2 separate regions of the Homo sapiens genome follow, and region 1 is linked to region 2. The links come from fine-mapping of genetic effects on gene expression. Tissue or cell type: esophagus mucosa. Region 2 holds a variant in brackets; the other region holds the start of a gene. All regions are shown on one strand. Distances are between the middles of the regions.

Region 1 (8,104 bases), 530 kb before region 2:
AAGCAGGCATACACAATATGTAAATAAATGAGTGTGGCTGTGTTCTAATACACTGTTTACAAAAAACAGGCAGGAGCATGAAAAAAGAGATAGCGAAATAGAGAGATGAGACAGAGAGAGAGAGAGAACACAAATTACCAAAATCAGGAATGAGAAAGAGACAAGACTACAGATCATACAGCCTCCACCATCAGCTAGTCACCCCAGGGAACCCCTACCCCATCCATGGAGTAGGCAAGAATGTAGAAACCACATGAAGCTATGTGCCTTCAGCCTTCAATATTGACATGCATTTATTTATTTAGTAACTAATTTATGTTAACAGGCAAAACAAAAATCCCTGGCCTTGTGGATCTTACCTTCTAAATCAGGGAGATTAAGCATAAACAATGTACATAATACATTTGTAGATTATCCAGTGTGTTAGGAGTTCATAAGAACTGTGAAGAAAGAAGGAAAAGTAGGACAAGGGAGGGAGAATGGAAGTGCTGAGAGTTTAAAATGGTGTGAAGACCCACCCCGGAAGGTCTCATTGAGGAATTACCATTTGAGCAAAGACCTGAAGGAGGTGATAGAGCAAGCCACAGGGAAGGATGTCCTAGGCTGAAGGAATAGCCAAGGCACAGACCCTGAGGCAGAGCCATCCCTGGAACATGGGAACAGCAGAGACCAGAGTTGTTAGAGTGGAGTGAATAAAGGGAAGAGAGGTGGAAAGAGAGATCAGAGCCTACAGGGGAAGCAGTCAGAATAGGGCCTTATGGTCTAAGGTGTGAAATGGCTGGGAAGCCCAGCAGGAGAGGGGTTGCCAACACTGGGGGATGAATAACATATCAACAAAAACTTAGAGGAACAATGGGGCTTCCCACAGAGCTACAATAAGGTCACTCCAAGAGCTGGACCCTCGGGTCCTGGGGTCAAGGAGGAGCTAGCAAGATCCCTCCTCCCTCCTCCCACAAGGACATGAAACCTGGGGGCAGAGGGCACCTACCCGCCCATTCTCTATCTCTCGACAGGCCATCAGGATCACCTAGACAAGGAGGGTCAGGGGAGAGGAAGGTGATTTGGGTGAGGGGGCCAGGGAAACTGCCGAGGGGGTACTTAGATGTTGACCCCACCATTGTGCCGCACCCCCAAGTGCTGACCTTGACCCCAAACTCCCAGACCAGTCTCCAGAAGTCTAGCAGGGTGTGAGGCAAGGGTCCTTGCGTGGCAATGTAGGCCAGGCTTCCATCCACGCCCTGGTGAAGGCCGAATTCACGACTGAGATTCTGCGGCCCACCCCTGGCCACTCCCAGTCCACCTCCTTCCGTGACCCCAACCCTCACCCGGATGAAGTTGCCATTAATGTAGTCGCTGTGTCCCTCTTCCTGGAGCAGGGAGAGGATTACTCGCGTCTGATCATCTGTCAGCAGATAAGGTGAGAAACGTGGAGTTTGGGTAGGATAGGGTGACGGAGCCTCTGACAGCCCCCTAGCTGAAAGCCAGCAGGGGACCACACACATGCAGAGATCCCACCAAGGTGCCCTTGTGGGCTGCTGAGCAGTGCAGAGGGTGAGGCTCTGGGAGGAGAGCACAGTGGGTGACTCCAGTGCACACTGACGCCTGGACGTGGCAGGGCGTGCAAGGCTGCACCGACTCCCTACGGAAGCCCCGACTTACAAGGCAGCACGTCTTTGTAGCGGTTCTTCCTCACGTTCTCTGGCCGACTGCCGGCCACGGTGGAGCACACGCCGTCAGCCTTCCAGGCGGCCGAGCAGGCCTGGATGTCCTGGTAGAGCATTATGAGTGGGTCAGGGAGGGGAGAAGACAGGAGAGGAGCCAGGTCAGAGTCCCAGGCCACCTAGGCACGCTTGCAGGATACAAAGCCAGTGGCCTGGGGAGGTGAGTGCAGACCCTGATGGCACTGGGCCTGCCTAATAATAATGATACCGAAATAGTGACCCAGGGCACCTTCTCTGTGCCACTCTCTGTGCTAAGGGCATGTAATCATCACAGGTTCCTACGACGTGGGTACTATTATTGACGTCCCCATTGTGCAGGCGGGAAAGTTTATGCACCACGTGGTTCAGCGACTTGTGGAAGGTCCCAACCAGGAAGTCACACGGTGAGGGTTGAACTCAGACCCTCTCGGCACCCACCCCCTGCACACTCAATCTGTGACATTGTCTTGTAAGCAATAACTGTAATGAAATATATTATGGGCTATGTAGCTAAACATATAAGACAATGTACAATGAATGCATAGGCATTATAATGGATAACATATTATGTACAAGATACTATAGGCACTGTGTTACTGGGAGATTATAATAATAATTAGTGAATCGTGTATTACCATCATCGTCAGGTATTCGTAATCTCAATGATAATAAGTAACACCCATGCCACCACTGTGTGCCAGCCACTATTCTAAGTGCTTTACTTGTGTCCATTGGGTCATTTAAGCCCTCATGATGCCCTTGTGTAGTGGGAACACCTAGAAGAGCGCAGTGATTCCTGCACATGCGGGAGGCAGGCTTGGGGAGCAGGGGTGCCCTCGCCACCCAGCCTTCCGCATGTGAGGCCCTCCGCACTGTACACGGTTCAGAACCCACCCAGTCGCATGATGTCATATATCACATGGGTATTATGTTTACATTTGTTACACACATTCTTATATTGTATAATTATATATTTTACATTTATTATGCATTTCTTAGTTTCTTATATACAATGTTTCTACATGTGTGTAAATTACTTAGGTTTATAATTATCTGTTACTTTTTTTTTTTTTTTTTTTGAGATGGAGTCTCGCTCTGTTGCCCAGGCTGGACTGCAGTGGCGCGATCTCGGCTCACTGCAAGCTCCGCCTCCCGGGTTCACGCCATTCTCCTGCCTCAGCCACCCGAGTAGCTGGGACTACAGGCGCCCGCCACCACGCCCAGCTAATTTTTTGTGTGTTTAGTAGAGACGGGGTTTCACCGTGTTAGCCAGGATGGTGTGGATCTCCTGACCTCGTGATCCGCCCGCCTCGGCCTCCCAAAGTGCTGGGATTATAGGCGTGAGCCACCGTGCCCGGCCATCTGTTACATATTTTATATCTACTTATGAATTTATCAAATAACTTTGGTCATTTTATAAATTATAATCTTTGTTATATTCATTTGTTGTATTGTTTTATGCAGTTATGCAATGTTTATTGTATAAACGGTCATTTATAATACTTTTATATATTTGTCATATTTCTAAACTTGATACATGTCACCATATATCAGTTTATGCGTTTGTATGGTATGTTTCTATGTCTGGTACATAAGCGATTACACTTTAAACACGTCATCAACTGTAATGTACAGTGCCTAGCATTCTGCGTGAGCCTTCCTAATGCTGGGCTTGCACTACCTGTATTGTAACGTTTAGATTTTTTGTTTGGTTTTGTTTTGTTTGAGATGGGATCTCACTCTGTGGCCCAGGCTGGAGTGCAGTGGCACCATCTCAGCTGTGCAGTGGAACCATCTCAGCTCACTGCAACCTCTGCCTCCCAGGTTCAAGCGAGTCCCCTGTCTCTGCTCCCTAGTAGCTGGGATTACAGGCATGCGCCCATGCCCAGTTGATTTTTGTATTTTTAGTAGAGACGGGGTTTCGCTGTGTTGCCCAGGCTGGTCTCGAACTCCTGAGCTCAAGCGATCCTCCCACCTCGGCCTCCCAAAGTGCTGGGATTACAGGTGTGAGCCACCGCACCTGGCCCACGTTTAGAATCTTTATAGGCAGTGACGAACGCCCCTACGAAGTGTGCGCCCAATATGTACTAAGTGCTTTTCACCCACATCATTTAATCCTTAGACCAGTTTGGTCATTCATGTCCCCATTTCACCAAGGGAGAAGCCGAGGTCAGAGGGGCCAGGTAGACCGCCTGGACCACACGCGGATGGCCGGGACGCGGATTCGGGACGGGAAGCGGATTCGGGCCCGGACGCGGATTCGAGCCCGGCGTTCACACCCTCACCACGCCACAGCCTCCGTGTTCCTCTTCGCCCTGCTGCAGCCCCTTCCTTCCTGTGGTCACAGGGGACAGTCAGGTCGCCAGAAGCGGCGGGGCCGGGGCTGTCCAGCGCAGCAGGGCCGCCCGCCCTCCCCTGCGGCGCCCGCCCCACCTGTCCCGCCCGCAGCCAGGTTGTTCCGGGAGCGCGACGAGGACACCGGGAACGAGGGTGTGCACGGTCCGTCCCGGCCTGGCCGTGGACGTCGCGCTCCGGGGCCGGGGGGCAGAGAGTGAAGACGGAGACAGCAAGAGCGACAGAGAAGTGCTGGGGAGAGAAACACGGAGAGACCCCCCGAGGCGGGGAGACACCGGGGACACCGAGACAGAAAGGCAGAGCCCGCCGTGCGCGGAGGACAGGCGTACGCAGGGCCAGGGCCGGGGCGCGCCGCTCGCGGACCCCGTGTGCCACTCACGCTGAACTCGCCGGCGAGGACTGCCCCCTCCCGGCCGCCCCGCGCTTCCAGCCGCTCCAGGAAGCTCCGCGCCGAGTCCAGGCTGCGGCTCATGGCGCCGCGGGCCAGCAAGGTCCAGCCCGGCCGCCGCGCGCGCGGCGAGTGTGGACGCCGCGGGAGGCGGAGGCCGGTGACTGAGTCCCCGCCCTTGCCTCGGCAGCCAATGGAAGCGCGCAGCGGCGGGCAGGGCGCCCCAGCCACCGTGTTCTGAGCCCGCGTAGCCCCACCCCGGGCGCTCGGGCCGCTGTGGCCGGAGCCCTAGGTCCTCGCGGGCTGCCCTGAGCAGAGTCCAGCGCCGGCGCTTCCCCTTTTTTTCGGCTGCCGCGCCCACTGGTGGGGGGGTGGCACGGTCCCAGGTTCGCTCCCTGCCGCTTGGGACCCGCCCTCAGATCGGGATCCGCGCCCAGGGGCCGACCTCCGGGTGCCGGCTCTGGGTGGACGGCCGAGCGGTCTCGCCGGGCCCTCCCGCCCGTCCCCTGGGAGCCAGGCCGCGCGGAGTCCGAGCTGGGGCGGGCAGCAGCCTTGGGTGGAGACGGTCGCCGAGATCAGGCTGCCCCTCGTGCCAGAGGACCCCGGGTCGGGGGCGTCCCGCGCTGTGCGCTCCAGCCGGGCCCAAGGGAGGCCGGGGAGGGGCAGCCACGCCGTGGGAAAGGCCAAGTGGCAGCGGGATCTTCTCTGTGTATTTCCCGAGGAATTTGTGGTTCCTTTTTCCCGGATGCGCTGGGGCACCAGGGTCAGTCCTGTGTGAGCATCTCGACCTGCACAAGCCTGCTGGGAAACAGAACTGAGGCACTGGAAGTGGGTTCTGGGGAACGAAGAGCTTCTCTTTTTTGCCTGCCCTGACACTCCCATCTTCAGAAAGTGTGCAGAGGTCAGAGGAGAGCCGCCGTTCCAGCTTCCGGGATCACCGAGGGGAGGCTGGAGAGAATGGACTGGCACCTGGGTCTCTTCAAGGACAGGCCTAGGTTAGCCCCCTTCTCGCCGAGGTCGGAAGAATTAAGAGGGGTGTCACTGGAAGGGGCGTCAGTGGACACCAGTTTGAGGTCGTTGAGGGGTTGAAAGGTAGCATTGGGGCCTGGATGTGTGCCTGAGTCTCTGAAGGGTCAACAGGGGCATGATGTCAGGTGGTCAATTTAATTCACTAGGGGCTATCAGAGTATTTAAGGGCACACTTTCTTAAAGGTCCCGGTAGGAAGTGGTTTTGGCTTTGCTATCGCTGCCCCAGCTGCTTAACTCAGCTGTGGCAGCATGAAAGCAGACAATATAGTGTGGCTGTGTCCCAAAGAAACCATTTATGGACAAAGAAATCAGAATTTCATGTAATGTTCATGTGTCATGAATTATTCTAGTGTGTGTGTGTGGCCTACAGGCTGTCGTTTGCTGACCTTGGCTGAAGTGATGGAGCGATCAAAGTGGCTCTGTGGGGATCAGCAGCTAGGGCTGTTTGATTTATCGTGGGGTCCGCAGGGGTCACTGTGAGATTCATGTTCATCATTTATCAGTTTCATCTTTGAGCATTCTCAGGGAGGTAATTGTTTAGGATGGTGGTGATAGGGAATTCATTGGAAGCCAGTCGGGGTCCCTTGGATGTTCATGGGGGGGGGGGTGTCAGTAGATATTAATGACAGTCATTGGGAGGCCAGTGGATACTTGGGACAAGAAGTGAAAGTAATTGTGGGGCCATTGGGATTTGGAGTGTTAGTAATTGAAGGGTCCGAAGAGTCTGGGAAGTCATTGAGAGCTCTGCTCAGTGCATGATAGTGACTCTCAGTATAATCATTGAGGGTTTGTGGATGGCCATGGAGATCCAGGGAGGTAGAATACAGAAGCATCAGTAAGCTTTCAGAAAATAAAGACATTTTCTGGGAAAATGTGAGCCCCTGAGCACACATGGTTATTCAGGGCAGTCTTTATGGGCTAGAGGATCTCTGTCCAGCAGCAGGGATCCTGTTGAGGGCCTGTCCTCATAGGCTGAGGTCTGTCTGACTGGTGGAGGGCATGTCGTCCAGCTGAAGGTCTGGTTGACTAGGTGGGTGGGGTGTTCTCTCCTCTGGGGTAATGTCTCTGTCCATTTTGGGGAGGGCACCTGTCCTTGAGGGATTCTGACCTTTGCCTGGCTGGGGGGCCCAGGTGTCTCTCTGGCCACAGGCCTATTTGGATGTCTGGCTGAGGGTCTACCCATCTGTCAGTAATCTGTCTGTTTGTCCAGCTGGGTGTTTCCCTGGGATTCTGTCCATCTGGAAGTCTGTCCAGCCAGGGTGTGTGTGTGTGTGTGTGTGTGTGTGTGTGTTTGGTGGTTTGTCTATTAGAGGATCTGAGTGACTAGCCAGATGCTGCCTTGTGGCCTGTGAACATTAAGTGGCTGAGGCTGTAGTCTGCCATTTGTACTTCCAGCTGCCTTGAGTGTCTTTCTGTCCTCGTGTTCACCCTCACTCCAAGCCCCACCTTGTTGTTTAACCCACCTGTCCTCCTGACACCTGACCGTTCCTCATGTCTCTCCAAACATCCAAACTCTTAGCTTGCCCTCTGTTCAGCTCAGGCTAGGTGTGGGGGATGGGAAGACCCCACATCTTCCAGAGGCCCTGGCCCACCCCGGCTTTTCTCTCCCGGAGGACTGCCAGCTGTGTTCTTGCAATGAGACTCACTGCTGCTGGTGGCCCTCCTGTTCACGCTGCCAGCAGCAGTCTTGCACAGTGGGAGCTGCTGGCACTGCTACAGAGACCCCAAGTGTACCAAAGCCCACGTGCCATGTGCCAGTCTGTCACCTGCCCACCAGTCAGTGTGGCTACATGGGCCGCTCAACAGAGCCAAGAGGACAAGGTAGAGGAAGATGCACAGGGACAGGTGCACAAGGCTGTGAGTTCAGCCTGCTCTGAGCCTGCAAAGGGGAAAAGAGAAACTACAGTGGAGACCCCTGGCAGACACCCCTTCCTCTGGGATGCTTGCGGGGAGCTCCTTGGAGACTGCTGGCATCTCCAGGGTACAGTTCTTCTCCAGCTTCCTTTTTTGCTTAGTTAAAAAAGGGCAGAGACCATCCTGGCTAACACAGTGAAACCCCGTTCTCTATTAAAAGTACAAAAAATTAGCCGGGCGTGGTGGCGGGCACCTGTAGTCCCAGCTGCTCGGGAGGCTGAGGCAGGAGAATGGCTTGAACCCGGGAGGCGGAGCTTGCAGTGAGCCGAGATTGTGCCACTGCACTCCAGCCTGGGCGACAGAGCAAGACTCCGCCTCAAAAAAAAAAAATCAATAAATAAAAATAAAAAAAGGGCAGAAGACTGGAACCAAAATGTTTGAGTTAGAATTCTGGCACCATGACTTTCTCAGTATGACCTTGGGCAAGTCATTTAATTTCTATGTCTCAATTTCCTCCTCTGTAGGACTGTGTCTCTTCTTGTTGCTTTATTGTGAGAATTTAAGGAAATCATTGTATATAAAGCATTTAGATAGAACAGCACTTGGCTTGCAGTATACACTTGGTACTATTAATATTATTATTACACTGCTAGTTTCCCTTTCTGATATTGCCACGCCCACCTCCTTACTCCCTCCTCTAAGTTAAAACAAAAGTGGAAGGGGGGGCATAAATTTGAAAACATTTTCCCATTGCTTCATTCTGTTAAAAACCTTCAAG
Region 2 (8,104 bases):
GGGAGGCCAAGGCAGGCAGCTGGGAGGTGGAGGTTGTGGCCAGCCGAGATCACGCCACTGCACTCCAGCCTGGGCAAGATTGAGCACTGAGTGAGCGAGACTCCGTCTGCAATCCCGGCACCTCGGGAGGCCCAGGCGGGCAGATCACTCGTGGTCAGGAGCTGGAGACCAGCCCGGCCAACACGGCGAAACCCCATCTCCACCAAAAAATACACAAACCAGTCAAGCCTGGCGGCACGCGCCTGCAATCCCAGGCACTCGGCAGGCTGAGGCAGGAGAATCAGGCAGGGAGGTTGCAGTGAGCCGAGATCGCGGCAGTACAGTCCAGACTCGGCTCGACATCAGAGGGAGACTGTGGGGGGGGGGGGGAGGAGGGAGAGCCTTTTTTTTTGTATTTTTAGTAGAGACTGGGTTTCACCGTGTTAGCCAGGATGGTCTTAATCTCCTGACCTCATGATCCACCCGCCTTGGCCTCCCAAAGTGCTGGGATTACAGGCATTTGTTGTTAGTGTAGAGAAGTGCTATTGATTTTTGCAAGTTGGTATTGTATCCTGCAACTCCACTGAATTTGCTCATCAGTCCTGCTTTTTGTATACTTGTTTAATAGTCCAGAATATGTTTTTTATCTTAGTAAGTGTCCTGTGTACACTAAAAAACTGCATTCAGCTCTCATTGTGTGAAGTGCTCTATAAACATCTTTTAGGTCAGGTTGGTTGATAGTGTGTGAAAATCTCCCAAATACCTTACTGATTTTCTGTCTCTGTGTTCTATCAATTATTAAGAGTGGGGCATTAAAATCTCTGACTACAATGGTGGATTGTCTATCTCTCCTTGGAATTCTATCAGTTTTGGCACCACGTATTTTGAAATTTTGTTATTAGGTGTATTGGCATTTAGTTTTATTGTTTCAGGTCTTAAAATTAAGTCTTTATTTTGAGTTGATTCTTGTATAAGGAGTGAGATAAAACTCTATTTTCCCAATTTTCTTTCTTTTTTTTTTTTTTTGAGACGGAGCTTTGCTTTTGTTGCCCAGGCTGGAGTGGAATGGCACAATCTCTGCTCACTGCAACCTCCACCTCCCAGGTTCAAGCAATTCTTCTGCCTCAGCCTCCTGAGCAGCTGGGATTACAGGTATGTGCTATCACGCCAGGCTAATTTTGTATTTTTAGTAGAGGCAGGGTTTCTCCATGTTTACTGGGACTACTCTCAGCCCCTAGAAGTTGCCTGCCTTTTCCTTCCCTATTGCCCCCTCCACAACATGGGAGTTTCTCTTTCAAGGACAGCAGAAATGTCTCTGCTATTTAGAATCTCTGATTTTCTCTGTCTCTGAACCAGCTGTATTGTGCTCTTGTTATTAGATTAGGCCCACAGGAAAATCTTTCTTTTGACTGACTCAAAGTCAACTGATTAGACTTCTTAGCTACATTGGCAAAACCCAATTTGCCATATAATGACACATAATCATGGGGTGGTATTCCGTAATACTCACAGGTTCTGTTCACACTCATAGGGAGGGAATCATGCAAGGTGTGTACATCAGGGGATGTGAATCTTGAGGGCCATCTTTGAATTCTGCCTACCACATTTCAATAATTTTTTTTTTGAGACAGAGTCTCACTCTGTCACCCAGGTTGGAGTGCAGTAGCACAGTCTTGGCTCACTGCAACCTCTGCCTCTCTGGTTCAAGCAATTATCTTGCCTTAGCCTCCCGAGTAGCTGGAATTACAGATGTGCACTGCCATGTCTGGCTAATTTTTGTATTTTTAGTAGAGATGGGGTTTTGCCATGTTGGCCAGGCTAGTCTTGAACTCCTGACCTCAAGTGAGCCACCTGCCTTGGCCTCCCTAAGTGCTAGGATTACAGGCATGAGCCACTGTGCCTGGCCTGGACCCCAATGATTTATAGCCCTTCCAAACATTCCCTAGAATCTAATCCCATTCAGACATCATTCCAAGTTTAAAATCTCATCAGGTAAATCAGGCCCAGATTTGGATGAGGCTTCTGGGTTAATTTTTTGAGACACATTTCCTCTCTATCCAAGAGAGAGGTGATCTCCCCAACACTCCCAGTATATGACGGTGGGACAGACATAGAGTGACAGTTATAGATGTTCCAGTTTAAAAAGGAGGAAAATGGAAGGTGAAACAGAAAGGAGTCACTGCTCCAAAGCAGTTTTGAAATCTAGCTGGATGACTTCCAGCCAGAGACCCTTGATTAGGTTTCCATGCCTGGGAATTATCCTTCCTTGCTCCTCAGTTATCTTGCTCACCCTCTGGGCTCTTGTTGGTTCTGTTCTCTGAGCTCTGAGTCATTCTTCCTTTTCATTAAAGGTAGGAGCATTTGCAGCTGAAGTTTCATCAACCCGCTTCCTGCTGCTGGAATCCTAAGGGTCTGACTGTCTTTTTAATTTCAGAGTCTCTCTGTTCCTTTTAGTCCAAGCTGGCAGTATTTCTTCCCAATTTTAGTCAAGAACCTTGTGGGGTTTGCATGAATTACACTGGGATTCAGACCATTAAGCAAAAGCCATGCCCACAGATCTCCTTTTAGTGGTCACTATTTTATTGCAATTGTACATATTTATGGGGTACAGTCTGATGTTTTGATAAACATATATTGTATACTGATCAAATTAGGGTAGTTAACATATCCATCACCTCATGCATTTATCATTGCTCTGTGGTGAGAACATTCAAAATTCTCTCTTCTAGCTATTTTATAATACACAGTACTGTACTGTCAATCCTCATCACTCCACAGTGCAATAGAACTTACTCCTCCTACATAATTGTAACTTTGTGCCCATTGAATAAACTCTCCTCATCCTCCCTTCTACCCTGCTTATCCCGTCTCTGGTAACCAGTGTTCTACCTCTGCTTCTGTGATGTCAACTTTTTTTTTTTTTTAAGATTCCACATGAGTGAAATCATGTGGTATTTATTTGTGTTTCTGTGTTTGGCTTATTTCACTTAAGATGGTGTCCTCTGGGTTCATCCAGGTTGTTGCAAATGACAGGATTCCATCCTTTGCATGGCTGATTAGTACTCCATTGTGTATATATACGACATTTTCTTTATCCATTTGTCTGCTGACACTTGGGTTGATTCCATATCTTGGAAGACATGTCTAGGAAGTTGCAAATGCTGCTACCTTTAATGAAAAGACATGTTATGGCCAACAGGTCTAGGAAAAAATGCTCAACATTCATCAGGGAAATGCAAATCAAAACCATAATGAGATACCACCTCATTCCATTTAGAATGGCTGTTATCAGAAAGACATAAGAAAACAAGTCAAGGGGTGTAGAGAAATGGGAACCCTTGTACACTCTTGGTGGGAATGTAAATTGGTACAGCCACTGTGGAAAGCAGTATGGAGATTCCTCAAAAAATAAAAATAGAATTACCATATGATCCAGCAATTCCACTCTTGGCAATATAAACCAAAGGAAATGAAATCAGTGTGTCAAAGAAATATCAGCACTTGTAAGTTTACTGCAGCACAGATCTTTTTGAGATAATCTCTTTGCTATATTTGGCTCTTGCTGATGCAGCTGAGGACCAGATGCTACAGGGCTGTGGTCCTCTGGTTTGGTTGAGAAGACCTGTGAGGCACATATGCTATCTCTTGAAAGAGCCCTTTGTACGACTGAATTCTCTGACTCATTGATCCTTCTGAGGTTTTAGCAAAAGGTTGTACAGTCACGCCCTCACCTTCTTTTCTCTGCCATGCCTTTGAAAGCAATCTCCTAATTTTATTGTCCGTAGCTATATGGATGGGCTGACAATTCCCCAAATCATCCAGTCCTGGTTGCTTTTTGTTTAATAGTGCTTTTCTCAAGTTATCTCCCTCCTCTCACATTTTACTATAAGCAGCAACAATGAACTCAGCCACATCTTCAACACTTTGCTGGGAAATCTCCTTAGCAATTTATTCAAGTCAGTCATGTATACCTTCTGCTTTCTGCCTAACTGCAGGGCACAATTTGCTAAGTTTCTGCCAATAAACAGTAAAGATTCCCCTTCTTTCAGTTTCCAATGACATGTCCCTCCTCTTCTTCTGAGGTCTCACCACTAGGATCCTCCAAGTACAGATTTCTACTAATAGTCTGTCCACTGCACTTCAGGCTTTTTCTGCCACGCTCCTCAACATTCTTAGAAGAATGCCTCTGCCTGCTGTCAGCTTCCACTGGCACAGCCACATTTTTAGGTATTTGTTACAGTACACCCCACTTTTAGGTAACAAAATGTGTATTGGTGCATAACAAATGACCACAAACGTAGAGGCTGGAACAGTGTGTCCATCAGTGTGCTGCTCTGTAGGCGAGAGGGATGATGATGTAATGCGTCTGCGCTCTCTGCTCAGTCTCGCCAGGCTGAAATCAGGGTGCTGGCTGAGTTTGTGTCTGCAGGCTCTGGGGAAGAATATGCTCTGAAGCTCATTCAGGTTGCCCGGCAGTCCTGGTTGCAGGGCTGAGGTCCCTGCCTCTTCACTGCCTGCCAGCTGGAGGCCCCCC[A/CA]GCATCTGCAGGCTGCCCAGCTGGCTGGCTGATGGCTCTCTCCTCCTTCAACACCAACAATGGATAATTTCTCAGCCACGGAGTCTCTTTCTTTTCAAATCCCTTCTTCCGGGAAGAACCCTATTCCTTAATAAGGGATCACCGGATTAGGGGTTCTACCTAGGATAGCCTTTTTCTGAACTCAGCTGAATAGGGACATTGGTTACATCTGAAAAGTCTCTTCAGCGCAGCATGCAGATGAGTGCCTAACTAGGAGAAGGTGTGAACACACACAGGGACCAGAATCCCGGGGGCATCTGAGAGTTCCGCCTGCCACAGGGATTCTGAAAAGCCTCGGTTGATGGTGTATTTGTCCAGAGAAATTAGCCCTTGTTTCTGTGTTGGTTTCCAGGAATATAATATTTTGGGGACAGTTTAAGGTTAACTTCTTGGCTTAAATAGTATAAATTTCAAGTTCAAACCTGCATAAAAGCAGGGAAACGATTAGAAATTGTCAGGGAAATGTTTAGGCCAAGATAACAAAATTTCATGTTGTCATTTGATACGTGCAGGTAAATATTTTTCCAGTTATTGGTCTTTTGTTTTCTGAGGCAATGGCCCCTGGAGAGTCCTAACTTCACGCAGCAGTTCTCAGCTCCTCTCTATCCCATCCTCTCAATCTGCCCCATCCATTCCTGTTTGTAGAAACCCAATCTTCTGGGCTACCAGAGGGCCACCGTCCCCCACTTCTGCTGCTCCTGGCCCTAGGCGCAGGGCTTCATGTCACAGGCTGTCCATTCAATTTTCAGTGACTGCTTTTGTTTCTGAGGATTCCCTTACTTTTCATTTAAGTTCACGTTGCCTACAAATATGTTTTATTACATACTATCTGGTGCTGCTTTTTGATTGCAGTCGGAGGCAGATTCTTTCATCTGCCACACAGATGGGGGTGGGAGCTTTGTTCTCTCTGCCTGTGGTTTGAGGCCTCCTCATTTCTCCCTGCCTGGAGGCAGCAGACCCTCAGCGCTCTGTCCTCAGGGCCTGCCCTAATCCATGGCCTGCCCTAATCCACTTCCAGGCACCTGACAAAGTCACCTTTGGAAAATGTAAATCGGATCACAAAGCCTCTCGGCTTCAAGGTGCTGAGCCACGCCTGCTTCTGTGCGGGATCTGGCCTGGCCTCTGACCCAGCAGGGCCCTGCCTGCACCGCGCACCCTCTGCCTCTCCCGGCCTGAGCCCAACCCGGGGGCGCCCCAGCACGTTTGCCGGTGGTTTGCTCCTGGGAGTGCTCCTCTGCTGGCTGTGGGCGGGGAATCCTCCTTTGATTCTCAGGCCCCGTCCTGGGGAGTGTCCCTGACCGCCATGGAGCTCAGCCCTGTTCCTCATCCCCCTACTTCACTGCTGTGCTGGTGGCTCTCAGAGTGGGGGCCCCCTTCAGCCGGCCCCGCCCGCCCACGCTCCCGCACCTCCTGCCCCTCCCGCACCTCCCGCACTTACCATGACAGCACAGGCCAGGGTCCGGCCCAAGACACACTGCGCCCAGCACGCAGCAGTGGGGGCTGAGCCCAGGGCTTCTGGCTACACCAGTGGGGTTCAGGAGGCCAGAGCAAGCCCCACGCTCCGAGGCCCCAGCTCGTGCTTAAGGTGCAGGGCTTTTGTGACAGGCACAGCAGAAAAGTGGACAGAAACAAATCCAAGCCCACCGGATTAGAATACAGAGACATTTTCGAATTAAATCATTTCTACAGGCCTAATCTTTTTCTTTTTCTGCTCTAAATATTATTATATATTTTTAAATAATGTCAACTCTATTTTTTTTCTTCCACTTTTATTTTAGGTTCAGGGGTACCTGTGCAGGTTCCTTACATGGGTAAATTGCATGTCTCTGGGGTTTGGTGTACAGATGATTTCCTCATGCAGGTGGTGAACATAGTACCTCATAGGTAGTTTTTTGATCCTCTTGCTTCTCCCAGCCCCGACCCTCATGTAGGTCCCGGTGTCAGTTGTTCCTCTCCTGTGCTCATGTGTGCTCATGTTTAGCACTCACTTATAAGTGATAACATACAGTATTTGGTTTTCTGCTCCTGCATTAATCCATGTAGGATAATGGCTTCCAGTTGCATCCATGTTGCTGCAAAGGACATGATTTCATTTTTTTTTTTTTTTTTTTTTGAGATGGAGTCTCTTATTGATCAGGCTGGAGTGCAATGGTGTGATCTCGGCTCAATGCGACCTCGGCCTCCTGGGTTCAAGCTATTCTCCTGCCTTTGCCTCCCTAGTAGCTGGGATTATAGGCACCCACCACCACACCTGGCTAATTGTGGTATTTTTAGTAGAGACAGGGTTTTGCCATGTTGGCCAGACTGGTCTCGAACCCTTTCCTCAGGGGATCTGCCCGCCTCAGCTTCCCGAAGTGCTGGGATTACAGGTGTGAGCCACTGCACCCGACCAATTTCATTCTTTTTGTATTTTTAATTGGCACATGATAATTGTACATATTTATAGGGTACAGTGTGATATTTCAATACATCTGTACAATGTGTAATGATCAAATCAGGGTAGTTAGCATATCCATCACTAAAAACATGTATCACTTCTTTCTTTTGGGAACATTAGAAGTCCACTCTTCCAGCTACTTGAAAATACATGACAAATTGTTGTTAATTATAATCCCCTATGGCACTATAGGACATGAGAACTTCCTCCTCCTAGCTGGCAGTCCTGCTGTATTCGTTAAACAGCCTGTGGCCCTCCCTTACTGCAGGCCTCATCCTTCTAACATTGAGCCCAACTTTTGTCACAGTGTTGGGAGAAAAGCTTGGGATGACCGACTGCGGGGGCGAGTGGCGGTGGCCAGCTGAGGTCGGCCCTGAAGGTGCTCCTAACACAGCCTGCGAGCTGCCCACGGGGACGGACAGACGCGTGTGCCTGCCTCATGCTGGTGTTGGAGGTCATTTCCTCCTCATGTGTCCAAAGAATTACTTGAAGTAACACTGATGGATGGCAGCCCTGTGGCCTGGGTTCCTCCGATACCTGTGAGGCAGTATCTTTAACACCACCCCTACAGTCGGGGCCTTTCAGATGCCAGGCTGTCCTGGGTCTTTTACATGGGCCTTTTCATGGACCAGAGTGGGGCTTCCCAAACGGCAATCTGGAGCCCTTTCCACCAGCATGGCAGGCCCAGGAATGAAGGATGCTAGTGGACACGTTGCTCATGACCCTGACTGCAGCCTCCAGCACCCCTCTTGTTTCCTCCCCCCTCCAGCCACTTTTTTGAAACAAAATTTTCTTTTAATTTTTACGTACTTAAATCATACCATGTTTTTATGACTTTGACACTGTGCTAGAAAAACTCACCCTGCCACAGAGTAAGTCAAATATTCACCTATGTAATCTCTTCCCATGCTCATGTTTTCATTTTTTATACATAAACCTTAATTCCTTCTAGAATTCATTTGGGTACATGCTGTGATGTATGGCTTTGTCTTTATTCATTCCAGCGGTTAGCCAGTTTTCCCAATACCATCATTTACAGGACAATCTATGCTTCACCCACTGGTCTGAAGTGCCAGCTTTATCATAAACTAAGTATGTGTCTGTACACGTACATA

What was found. PIP is the estimated chance that this variant, and not a neighbour inherited with it, causes the effect.
Region 1: it holds the start of PTPN18, and the variant in region 2 is fine-mapped to the expression of PTPN18 in esophagus mucosa (GTEx, PIP 0.98).

The regions. Positions count from the first base shown.
Region 1 is chr2:130,352,531-130,360,634 of GRCh38, reverse strand. PTPN18 (protein tyrosine phosphatase non-receptor type 18) reads right to left here and starts at 4,579. Exons shown (of 15, transcript NM_014369.4): 1 at 4,435-4,579; 2 at 1,660-1,768; 3 at 1,326-1,402; 4 at 1,143-1,238; 5 at 989-1,027. The coding sequence starts at 4,527. RefSeq lists silencers at 4,140-4,189, 4,330-4,999.
Region 2 is chr2:129,825,302-129,833,405 of GRCh38, reverse strand. No RefSeq gene overlaps it. Among named protein-coding and RNA genes, the nearest start is that of LINC02572, 48 kb to the left of the region's middle. The variant A/CA (reference allele first, on the strand shown) is at 4,514.